2 linked regions of the Homo sapiens genome follow. The protein of the gene in region 1 purifies or fractionates together with the protein of each later gene. This does not show direct contact. Each region holds a gene or a part of one and is shown on either strand. Other genes may lie near its edges.

Evidence for each region. The genes of interacting proteins can lie anywhere in the genome.
Region 2: the proteins of PPP1R3B (region 1) and NIPSNAP2 purify together in Homo sapiens (affinity purification with mass spectrometry; 2 studies listed by BioGRID and IntAct, with this or other methods). This does not show direct contact.

The regions. Positions count from the first base shown.
Region 1 is NC_000008.11:9,135,716-9,140,658, forward strand, and holds the end of PPP1R3B (protein phosphatase 1 regulatory subunit 3B), read right to left. Parts: 3' UTR 540-4,943; downstream 1-539. UniProt on the Homo sapiens protein: Acts as a glycogen-targeting subunit for phosphatase PP1. Facilitates interaction of the PP1 with enzymes of the glycogen metabolism and regulates its activity.
Region 2 is NC_000007.14:55,974,546-55,981,584, reverse strand, and holds part of NIPSNAP2 (protein NipSnap homolog 2), read right to left. Parts: intron 3,460-7,039; coding exon 3,320-3,459; intron 3,236-3,319; coding exon 3,190-3,235; intron 113-3,189; coding exon 18-112; intron 1-17. UniProt on the Homo sapiens protein: Protein involved in mitophagy by facilitating recruitment of the autophagy machinery required for clearance of damaged mitochondria.

The DNA.
Region 1 (4,943 bases):
CCTTTCCACTGGAGCCACCGCCCACTTCCCCAGGGTGGCAGAGGACTTGTTGACATGGAACTTCTAGATGCAGCTTCCCACCCCCACTCTGCCTGCATCTTGTCCTGAACTTTGGAAAAAAGCAGCTCTGGAAATCTCACTTAGGGTGACTATCCGCTACCTATCCGGGGCTGTTTTGTTTTGCTGCTTAGTTTGTTTGCTCAAGCAGTTAAAAGCTATGGTAGCCATTTATAGTTTTCCTGCTTTTGTTTGAATACGTCTGTCTGCACTGTACTTCAAGTGCAAATGACAGGGTAAGAATGCCTATGACCTAGGATCATTAAAAATGGGTGCAGAATAACACTAGCTCCTGTATCTCTTCCCTAGCACTTACCTTCTCAGCTATGCTAAAGCAATTAACTCCTCTCTGCCTTGCACATTTAACTCAGCCATTGACTGCAAGCTTTTTCTTTGGAAACCTAAGATCTACATGTGGAAACATATCGATTTGAAATGTTTCTCCACTTACTCTGGCTCTAAGAATAGAAGGACACTTTCAGTTTTGTTTTGTCTTCCTTTATTACATTTTTGCTTTTGAGATACAAACCAACCTCTCATACCACACAAAGAACATCCATTCTTGGGATTTTTAAAGTGCATTTCCCCTTGAACTCTGTGTACAAAAATATTTATCTTTTAAAACATGCAAAAATTTCTTGACAAGGCACTTTTAGGTATAAAATGAAGATGAGTCCTTGGTTCTACATTCACACTGAAGTAATAGTGAAACATCATCACAGCTGCACTCTCAAAGCCCTCAGAGGTCCAGCAGTCTCTAAAAACTCGTCAACAAGACTAAAAACATTCACGGCTTTACAATGTGGGTTACAGAGCTTTACAACCATGACCAGGAAAAACTGCTCGTAACAACAGCTGTCCTTCCCAGTTCCACATGTGTTGTCTCACTGCAGGAAATTAAGATAAGCTGCCAAATTGTCTTTGTGTGACCCTATAAGATCCCATCATCCATGTAACTTCTTGTCTCCGATTTCAGTGAACATGTCAGGAGAGACGTGATCGGGACTCTCCCAGGACTACATTCAGGTGAGAAATTTTAGAAGAGGAAACAAATAAAAGGCAACCAAGGTTTTCATCCCCTATCCATTGAGAGGGAAGATCCAGAAAATGGGCAGTTCCAAAAAAGGAACACTTTTTTGATTGATAAGCATATATGGCCCATTTAATGTCCATGACTACAACTAATGCCTTTTTTCAAAAAGAAAATGGTTTGAAAAGATCAAAACCACAGAGCAATCTCCTAACAGTTCCAAATTTACATCTTCTAAGAATGTATAATTTTGCCACCATTAAAATGAAATCTTAAAGGTAAATTAAATTCTCCCATTGACTCTGACATTGTTTTAATTTCTGGAGAACTGTACAGCTTCATTATTTCTCACCAGCTCCAGTAGAATAATTTTTTAAATAAAGAAACCCACTCAAATGCTTCATGTCTTCCAATAGATACTGAAAGCTTATTTATTAAATATCTTTGTATAATCCAGCTTATTTATTGTACCCAGTTTGCAAATGCTCCTCAGGGCACTTGAGGGAATAAATATAAAACAAAAATGAAGTTGCTTCCCTATTGCCGGACAACTGCACCTGTGACAGGTGGCTGGTCTTTCTGGGGCAACCTGGGAAAGATTCTGGGACTCGGGGGCCACTTGTAACCATAACCAAGAGCTGTCTGAAGGCAAATCTACAAGTCAAGGTGCAGTGAAGTCTCCAAGTAAGAAACCTGTCACCCTCTGAAGTGTGTAGGCTTATCTACTGATGATGAGCTATCAAACAAGGAGAGAATACATCAGCGCAGCTCCCGAGGCCTTCTGAGAATTTCACGGGACAGAACTGGGCCAAAAGGAAGAAGACTGTTTGCGGCAGGAGGGTAGCAGAGGAGCAAGTGGTAAACAGAAGACAGATAGAAGGCAGTATTCTTCAGACCCCCATACATCACTGAATGACAGCCCTGATGAGGAAACTCAGGCAAGTAGAGTCTTTTATTGGAGAAGAAGGGTCTTTGCGAGCAGGTGAGGACTTGCCTTCTGAACTGTGCGGCAGGGTGAGCATCCCAGGTGTGCTGGCTGGGGGCTTGCATCCAGCACCCCCAGCAAAAAAAGCCAGGGTGAGCTGGGAGAAAGACGGGTAGTGGGGAGGGTTTACGGCTGCTTTAGAAGAGATAGTTATCACTGAATTACCATATTTCAAATTTTGACATGGGAATGTCTTAAGATCATTATTAGATAAAATTAAACTGACTTTATTAAACAGAGTCACTTCAGGCCTTTTTCTTATGAACAGAGTGATCCTTAGTCGGGTAACATGTCAATGACAGTGCACTCTGTGCCTCTCCTGCATTGTGGGGAGGGCACTTCTTAAGGCAAAGTAAAATTCAGGACCTGCATGAAATCAGTTTTGCTTCCATTTGAGTTCGATTTATGCTATTAATAGTTCTGATCACCAAATTTATAACATTTAAAGTACTGTCTGTTACCCGATGTCTGGTATGTTTACATAAAACGTGGTTCTGCCCAGTAACAGCATAAGGTAAAAATGTGATTTCCCCTAAAATTATAACATCATGTCATCCTAGAGTGTTACCCACCTGGGAGAGGTACAAAAAACAAAGCATTAGATTTCAGGCTAAGAACAGCCAGTTTTAGGAGTAAGAATTACATCGAATAGCCTTAAGAGCATTTAAAAAGTCAAGGCATCTTAAACTTCAGAAATGAAAACAAAACCAAAACAAAACAACAACAAAAACAACCTAACCCAACCACAAAACTCTAGGAGCCAAGGCACTCAGTATCTGCCTGTTGGTTATGTACAAAGCCACAAATGGGAGGTCTTTTCAAATTAATCTGGAAAATCCAAGCACAAGACTCTTAGCTTGAAAAGCCTGACAACTCTGCCTCCAAATCCAGGCAACTGTGCTTCCACTCCTCTTCTTGCTTGCCTTAGGAAAACTTCACTTTAGTAAGATAAGGCAAAACAGAAAATAAAAGAGTCGTTTAACCAAACTCCAAAAACAAACAAAAATAGAAAATAAAAAACCAACTTCCTACAAGTATACTTGTAAAAATATATTTTTAAAGCACCCCTAAGTAAACACCAATCTTGCCCAAGAAAAATCACAGGTTTGGGGCCTATCTGATAATGACTGTCCCGGAAGTCTCTCTTTTTTGAGACAGTTTCACTCTGTCGCTCAGGCTGAAATGCAGTGACGTGATCTCGGCTCACTGCAACCTCCACCTCCTGGGTTCAAGTGATTCTCCTGCCTCAGCCTCCCGAGTAGCTGGATTACAGGCGCCTGCCACCACACTCAGCTAAATTTTGTATTTTTAGTACAGACGAGGTTTCACCATGTTGGCCAGGCTGGTCTTGAACGCCTGACCTCAGGTGAGCTGCCCGCCTTGGCTTCCCAAAGTGCAGGGATTACAGGCATAAGCCACCACACTCGGCCCCAGAGGTCTCTTTTACAACAGCACTAACCAACAGACTTTAGTCCAATATGGTTAAGAACAATGAATCTCTGAAATTTCAGAGTTGGCAAACGTTTAAAATAACGTATAAGAACTTGGGTGAGGTTTTTCTCCCCTATCTCTTTACATACACACCATAAATAAGAACACCCAAGTCCATGTCCCTGGGTGCTGGTAAAGTGTTCTAGATAGTGTGAATCACAGTCACGATAAAACCATTTTCTGAAGGTTTCGAGGAGATATTGGATATGCAAATCAAATGTCCTAAACACAGCAGAAAAGATGACTCTTTGGGAAAGGAGATTCAAAATTCTCTTTTTTTTTCTGTTTGAGACGGAGTCTCGCTCTGCTGCCCAGGCGGGAATGCAGTGGTGTGATCTCGGTTCACTGTAAGCTCCGCCTCCCAGGTTCCCGCCATTCTCCTGCCTCAGCCTCCCAAGTAGCTGGGACTACAGGCGCCCGCCACCACGCCTGGCTAATTTTTTTGTATTTTTAGTAGAGACAGGGTTTCACCGTGTTAGCCAGGATGGTCTCGATCTCCTGACCTCGTGATCCACCTGCCTCGGCCTCCCAAAGTGCTGGGATTACAGGCATAAGCCACCGCGCCCGGCCCCAAAATTCTTTCATAAAGAATGAGACAAACCAGCCAAGCACGTTAAAGTCATTGAGCTTTCGGGGGAAAAATCAGATTTTTCCGGTGACTCGGGGTAAATGTGGGGACTTAGAAAGCTCCCCCTAGAAGGCAAAAGTAGAAGCTGAAAGTGTCCCCACTCTTGACTGTCCTGCCTTGTCAGAACCCTGCAATCTGTGACACCGCACAGGAGCCAGTGGGTTTTGATGACTGGTGTGTTGCTCTCTGCTGGAATACATCTGTGGGGTCAAGAAGCGGGAGGAGGAAATGCCTGTCTCAACCACTAACTAATTTGCCTTTATTATCTTTTCCTGAACATCAGATCAATTGTGGAAGAACATAAAATGCAAAACATGAACTTGCAGAAAACAAGAGCCAATCCCATTTCTCTTCTGCAGCTGCACTGGAAATGTGCGTCAGCTCAGTGTGTCACAGCAGAGATACACGTGGACGGGGAAGCACAGCAGCTTGCAGGAAAGGCCTGGCTGGCAGAGAGCACCCAAAGATGAACACAATGAACAGTGAGGGTCTCACGCGAGGTGGCTGGGGCTGAGTGGCTTTTGGCGACTGATGTCCCACATCTGAGTGGAGAGCAGAGGAGAGACTCCTCCAGCTTCATCAGCACTGGCATAGGCTTGATTCCCATCCATACCCTTTCCAGCACAGACGTGCACAGACTCTCGTGGCTGCCACAGTGCGAAAGCGCGCCAGCCACCACTGCTCCTTTGAGTGAGACACTGGTTGTGTAATCTGAACCTGGCTGGATTTGCTGTTTAAGAAAGAAGTGAAGA
Region 2 (7,039 bases), on another chromosome or scaffold:
AAGACTTCGCTTCCTACCAGCTTGGTCCTGCTCGCCATACCACGTGTTCCAAGTCCCCACCAAAGTACAAGGGTAGTGTTTATCTTCGTGAATCTTTGGCAACACCTCTTGACTTAAAGAGAAGAAACAGCAACACTAATTAAACAACCAGCAAAATTTGACCAGGTGGACAGCACCTGATCAGTAACAGGAAAAAGACCACCTACTCTGTGTTCTAACAACTGACCTTAGAACATCATGATAAAACGGCATGTGGAGTTAACCTTTTAGCTGAATTATGTTGTATTCCAACACCCTGCTGATCAGAAGCTTAGGTTTCTGATACCCCAACTATCTAGAAGAGTTGTTCAATCAGTATAATGATGATAAAGAAAAACCAAAGGTCCCAGGATTTTGGGAGCTATGGGTCTACTATTTTCCATTTGAGGGGAAAAAAAACGACATCACCAAAAAACATTCTGTTGGTTCCAAAGACAGAAGAATGAGAGACGGGGAATAGTAGAAAAGAACACAGAAGAAATAAGGAAGATGGAAAGGGAGGAAAGTAATGTTCAAGACAGAGGCAGACAACACAAGCAGTACCAGCAGGCAGAGGTAACAGGAGCAGAGAACAAGCTGGCCTTCAGGAAGGAGCAAGAAGACAGCTGGAACACAACATAGTCTGGAAGCGACTCCAACCTCCAATACTCCCCAAGGGCATCAACATGGCAGAAGAATAAAAATTAAAGATACAATGCGAAGCATAAATTATGTTCTACTCAATTCAATGGGCCAAGGGGATGGGAGGGGTGTCACGTAGTCTCGCACCGAACACACCAACCAATTCATTCCCGCGCATTGTGCAGGGACAGGGACAAAGCCATGACAGGTCACGGCAGTGTATGAATTTAACAGGGGTGTCAGAGTGGAGCTTGGTTCCATGGAAGCTTTCCTATGGTATAGATTCTAATGTACAGGGAAAGGCAAAGGGAAGAGTGTAACTGTTTTACACCAAGAGAAAAGCTAAAACCTGCACACTTTTTGAATAGAAAAATTATGATGAAAAAGTATCATACAGATTCAACAATGGATGCAAAAGGGGATCAAGGGCAAGAAATGGAACCTGTTCACACTATTTGCTGACTCTGATATTTAGCTAGTGATCACCACCAGATGCTGGGGCTACAGGACCAAGGGTATGTAAGTACCATGTGCTAACCGACTGCACCACTGGAGCTCCATACGACCAGGGATACATAAATGGTTAACAGAGAAAAGTTCCAAAACGGTCTAAGTCTAACTAACTGAAAACCCATACATCTTTATGACCCAGTATAGTGACCACATCATGTGTACTTTTGGAAGAGTAGCATTTACTTTTTAAATTAGGATCTGATATTAAATGTATCTGATGCGTGACTCATGAATGTTCAGAAATAACATGGGATCAATGAAAATCGAGGACAGGGAAAGAGGGATTCTGCTAGGGAAATGTATGTCCAACATTTCCTTTTCGTCGCATGACATGAGCAGGAATAGACAACCCTGCATTGGAGGCAGTGCCCAGGAGGAAGCCCAGTACACATGATTCAGGTGGGGTCCAGAAAGGGGCCTGGCAACGGGGCCCAGGTTTTTCACCAACACAAAGTCACGCATGGATTTGTAGCCACTCCTCTTTGCTGGGGACCCCAAACCTGCTCTTAGGAGCCCTGGCCTTACCTGAATGGAGATTGTAAGGCAGGCAGTACTTGTACCCAGAACTGGATGGGTTGGGCAGAATCCCATTATTGGGACCCCTAAAAACCAGGCAGGAGTTAAGTCTTTATGTTCTGCAAACAGGGAGCTGCTGAAAGTTTCAGAGAAAAGAAAAAACGTGATGAAAAAAGAAAACAGAACTCAAGCAGATCAATCTGACAAACTTTGGGGTAATGTATTGCAGGGCAGGAAGGAGACACAGGTATAGCTTGGAGCCCAGAAAGGTAGTCAGAAAAAAAGCTACTTGGGAATGGGGCTCGAGAGGCTTGGAGAGAGAGATGGAGAAGGAAACAAGAGAACCAAAATACATGTCCGATGAAGAATGCACAGCTTAGGTGACAGATTCACCACAGAGAACTAAGGAACGGGCTGAGTAAAACAAGGTGAGTGGCACAGACAGGGAAGTTGGAAGAGCAAGGTGATTCTACATGCTGGGTGTGAAGTGAGAGCACAACATCAAATAGAAATAGGAACAGACAGCCAGAAACCCGAGACAGGAGACGAAGTGATAAGACAGGACAAAAAAGGTAATCCAGGACAACATCGGCATAGGGAAAAATTCCATTTTTATGAGAAAAGACTTAGAAATAAACATCTGCTTTGTTTTAAGGGCATTTTTTAATAAAGAGAAATGTGCTGGAATGAGCAAGAAATTCAATGCTATTGTTACATTTCATAAGCTATCTTCAAAAACAAAACAATAAAAAACAAAAGGTTTTTCTTCTAAAAAGTATGCTGATTATAGGGACAAAATTGTTTGCTTTCTTAAGAACGTAGTAGATATTAAAGGTAAAAACAAAACAAAACTAAAAACCTTTTTCTTCACATTTGCTCACCATGGGTCATTAAAATACTATTTCTGTTAACTTAAAAGCTGGTAAGCTTAGTTCTCCCCTTTCGTCTTAAAGTTTACAAATTCTGTAAGCAGGTTTAGATCGCAAATCATAGGAGAATCAGCGGAAGGGACTTGGATCCTGGAGAACAGAGGAGTTGGGAAGAAATGGCAGCTATGTTCAAATACATACAGGACTCTCACAGGGCAGTTTTACTTAGGGGAATCAATGAAGGACTCAGAGATGTGAATTCTTATTCCTAACACTCAGAGCTGTCCAGAGATGGAACTTACTTCAGGACAGGCAGTCAGGAAGGTCTGTGGAAAGGACTCCAGCACTGGATAAGTAGATGGACTAGACAGCCTGGCAAAGTTCCTCCAAACACAAGAGTCTGGTAACATTCTAAAGTCTGATAGCCTATATGATGATTTAGCTGTGTGAGTGCTTAAAATCAAAACGCCTTCGGCAATCCCACATGAAGCTCAGTTTAAGAGCCTCTGAATGTTCAGCTTCAAAAGAGAGGGATGAAAGATCTCTCTCTATGCTATCAAGTGTTAGTGGAATTAACTAACAAATAAAGTCATTATTTTTCCCCAAGTAAAGGATAGTTTGGTATACACACCAAATTTTGTTGTATGCTTCTAGGCATTCCGGTTTAACATTGTGAACTGAAACAAAAGAAAATTCAACGATAAACTTAGGAACAAAGGGGAAAAAAAGTCAACTATGAAGATAGCAAACCTGTCACTCACACTGTAATTTGTATAGATTGCTTGTTTCCTTTTTGGCTAGGAGATTGGAGTGGGCATCTTTTCTTGGATCAACTTTCCGGACAAATAAGGATTTTAGCCAGCTGTCTTCTCGAGATCTGTTGCTGGAAGATGTCCATGTCCTATGGAATAACAAAGGTGTTGTCACGCAGTATACTGTTTTCATATATCCATCAGTTAATCTGGCAAACACAGTGAGCAGCTATTCTAGGCACCGTTCCAGAACCTGGGCTACCAAAGAATGCCTGCTTTCCATGACAACAGCATGCACTCCAAGAAGCAGAAGCAAAGAAAAATGTAAAATGTGTGGCACTCCTATAAGAGAGCCCACATTTATCTTTGCAATTTGCACTATGTGTTTTTCAAAGCAATTTTTGACACAGAAAAAATATACATGGATACCTAGAGTAGATAAACCCACAGAGACAGAAAGCAGAACGGAGGTTGCCAGGAGGTGAGGAAAGGGGAGGTTGGGGTAAGGAGTTTCAGTTTAGGAAGATGAAGAAATTCTCAAGATGAATGGTAGTGATGTTTCCCCAAAATGTGAATCTACTTAATGCCACTGAACTGTATGCTTAAAATGGTTAAAATGGTGAATTTTACATTACGTACATTTTGCCACAATTTAAAAAATATTATTTGATTTGGAAACAGATAGTGGTGATGATTGTACAACAATGTGAATATAAGTAATGCCACTGAATTATGCACTTAAGATGGTTTAAATGGCAAATTTTATGTATATATGTTTTACCACAATAAAAATATTTTAAAAATACAAGGAAAATGAAATACATTCTTTCTTTAAAAAAAATTTACCCCTCAAGTAACTTAAAAATCAAAAAAAAATTTTTTTTTAGATGGAGTCTCGCTCTATCGCCCAAGCTGGAGTGCAGTGGCACGATCTGGGCTCACTGCAACCTCCGCCTCCCAGGTTCAAGCGATTCTCCTGCCTCACCCTCTAGGGTAACTGGGATTACAGACACACACCACCACACCCAGCTAATTTTTTGTATTTTAGTAGAGATGGGGTTTCACTGTGTTGCCCAGGCTGGTCATGAACTCCTGAGCTCAGGCAATCCACCTGCCTCAGCCTCCCAAAGTGCTAGGATTACAGGCAGGAGCTACCGAGCCTGGCCAAAAAAAAAATCAAGATTTGTAAAAATTAACTTTAAAAATCAAAAATTTTTTAACTGCCCCCACAAACCTCAGAATACCAACTTTATTAACACATAATTTGCTAATTTTCATCTCATAATTAAATTTCTATTGTGAATGCTTTCAGAAAGTGAGGATAAATTTGACTCAAGTCACAAACTATACTTTACTCATGGATTTTTTCTTTCTTTTTTTGAGACTGGGTCTTGCCCTGTCACCCAGGCTGGTGTGTGGTGGTGCGATAGCTCACTGTAGTTCACTGTAGCCTCAAATTCCTGGGCTCAAGTGATCGTCCCACCTCAGCCTCCTGAGAAGCTGGGACTAGAGGCATACGTCATCTTGCATGGTTAATTTTTTTAAATTTTTTGTAGAGATGGGGTCTTGCTATGTTGCCCAAGTTGTTCTCAAACTCCTGGCCTCAAGCAATGCTCCCACTTCAGCCTCTCAAAGTGCTGGGATTATAGGTGTAAGCCACTGCAATTGGCCCTACTTCACAAATATCTATGTGCATGTTGAACTCCCATATGCCAGCTAATAGGAATACAAATTTGTTGACCTCCCAAGAGGGCAGTGTGGCATCATCCATATCAAAATGGAAACTGTGTATGACTTCAGCCCAATAATGACACTTGCGGTTATGTCCTACGGCCAGCTATATTTAGACAGGTGCACAAAGTTGAATGCATACAAATATTCATTGCTGTCTTGTTTCCAGTTATCTCCTGGCATAGGCCATTTGAATAGCCATTAATGCAGACTGGTCACGTAAATTAGGAAATACTCCCCGTCAGAAAATATGCACTCGATAAAAAGAATGAGGTAGATTTATGTGCACTGATGTGCTGACATCTCCAAGATAAATTCTGTAAAAAAGCCGGCACAGAACAGCACTATATATACACATACAGAGTGAGCTGTTAAAGGGTGATGACATCTGGGGAACATGACTGGGCCTGGGGTGGGAGTAAAGGTTTTTTCTTTTCATTGTATAACCTTCTGAACTATCTGAACAATTTCTACACACACACACACACACACACACACACACACTTTTTTGAGAGAATCTCGCTCTGTTGCCAGGCTGGAGTGCAGTGGCACCATTTCAGCTGACTGCAACCTCCACCTCCCAGGTTCAAGCGATTCTCCCGCCTCAGCCTCCTGAGTAGCTGGGACTACATGGTGTGCCACCGTGCACGGCTAATTTTTGTATTTTTAGTAGAAACAGGGTTTTGCCATGTTAGCCAGGCTGGTCTTCAACCCCTGACCTCAAGTGATCTGCCCACCTCGGCCTCCCAAAGTGCTGGGATTATAGGTGTGAGCCACTGCGCTCAGCCCTCTTCTGAACTTTATGTAACCATGATCAAATGACAAACAGCGTTTCCCTCATCTTCTTGGTTTTTCACATCTATGTACAATAAAATGTACTTTTTTGGCAGACAGTACTGAGTTTTGACAAATGCCTAAAGTAATGTAACCAGCATCACAACAGCTTCTTCACCCCTTGAAGTTAATCCTTTTATAATCAACCCCTCTCCCCATCTCTAGCAACCACTGCTGTGTTCCTTGTCCCTCAGTTTTGCCTTTTCTAGAACATCGTATGTATGGAATCATACAGAAGGGTAGCCTTCTGAATTCCTGCCCCTTCTTTCTGCACAATCCCTTTTATAATTGGTGATCTTACCTCTGGCCAGGTCTATCACAGCATACCCTTTATACTTTTGTTCTCTTTTTATTTTTGAGACAGGCTCTTACTCTGTTGCCCAGGCTGGAGTGCACTGGTGTGATCACGGCTCACTGCAGCCTTGACCCCCAGAGCTCAAACGATTCCCCCACCTCAGCCTCCAGATTAGCTGGGACAACATATGCACACCACCATGCCTGGTTAATTTTTGTATTTTCTATAGAGAATGGGTTTTGCCAGGTTGCCCAGGCTGGCCTTGAACTCCTGGCCTCAAGCGATCCTCCTGCCTTGGCCTCCTGAAGTGTTGAGATTTCGAGCATGAGCCACCATGCCCAGCTACTTTTGCTCTCCAACTGACCTACACATAGATCTTTTCTGCCTTTTCCTAGATCAGTAATGTACTGGGATTCCAAAGGGCCAGCATAAATGTCCAGAATCTTAGTGCTTCTGGACATAAAAGTCCAGATGCTGATGGGCCAGTGTGAACCTCTTCTTGGGGATCTCTTTAGAAACACTAGATGATTTTCTACAACAGTATTTCTTTTTTTTTTTTTTTTTTTTAAGACAGAGTCGCGCTCTGTTGCCCAGGCTGGAGTACAGCGGCATGATCTTGGCTCACTGCAAGCTCCGCCTCCCAGGTTCACGCCATTCTCCTGCCTCACCCTCCTGAGTAGCTGAGACTACAGGCGCCCGCCGCCACACCCGGCTAATTTTTTGTATTTTTAGTAGAGATGGGGTTTCACCGTGTTAGCCAGGATGGTCTCGATCTCCTGACCTCATGATCCGCCTGCCTCGGCCTCCCAAAGTGCTGGGATTACAGGCGTGAGCCACTGCGCCCAGCCTTCTACAATAGTATTTCTAAT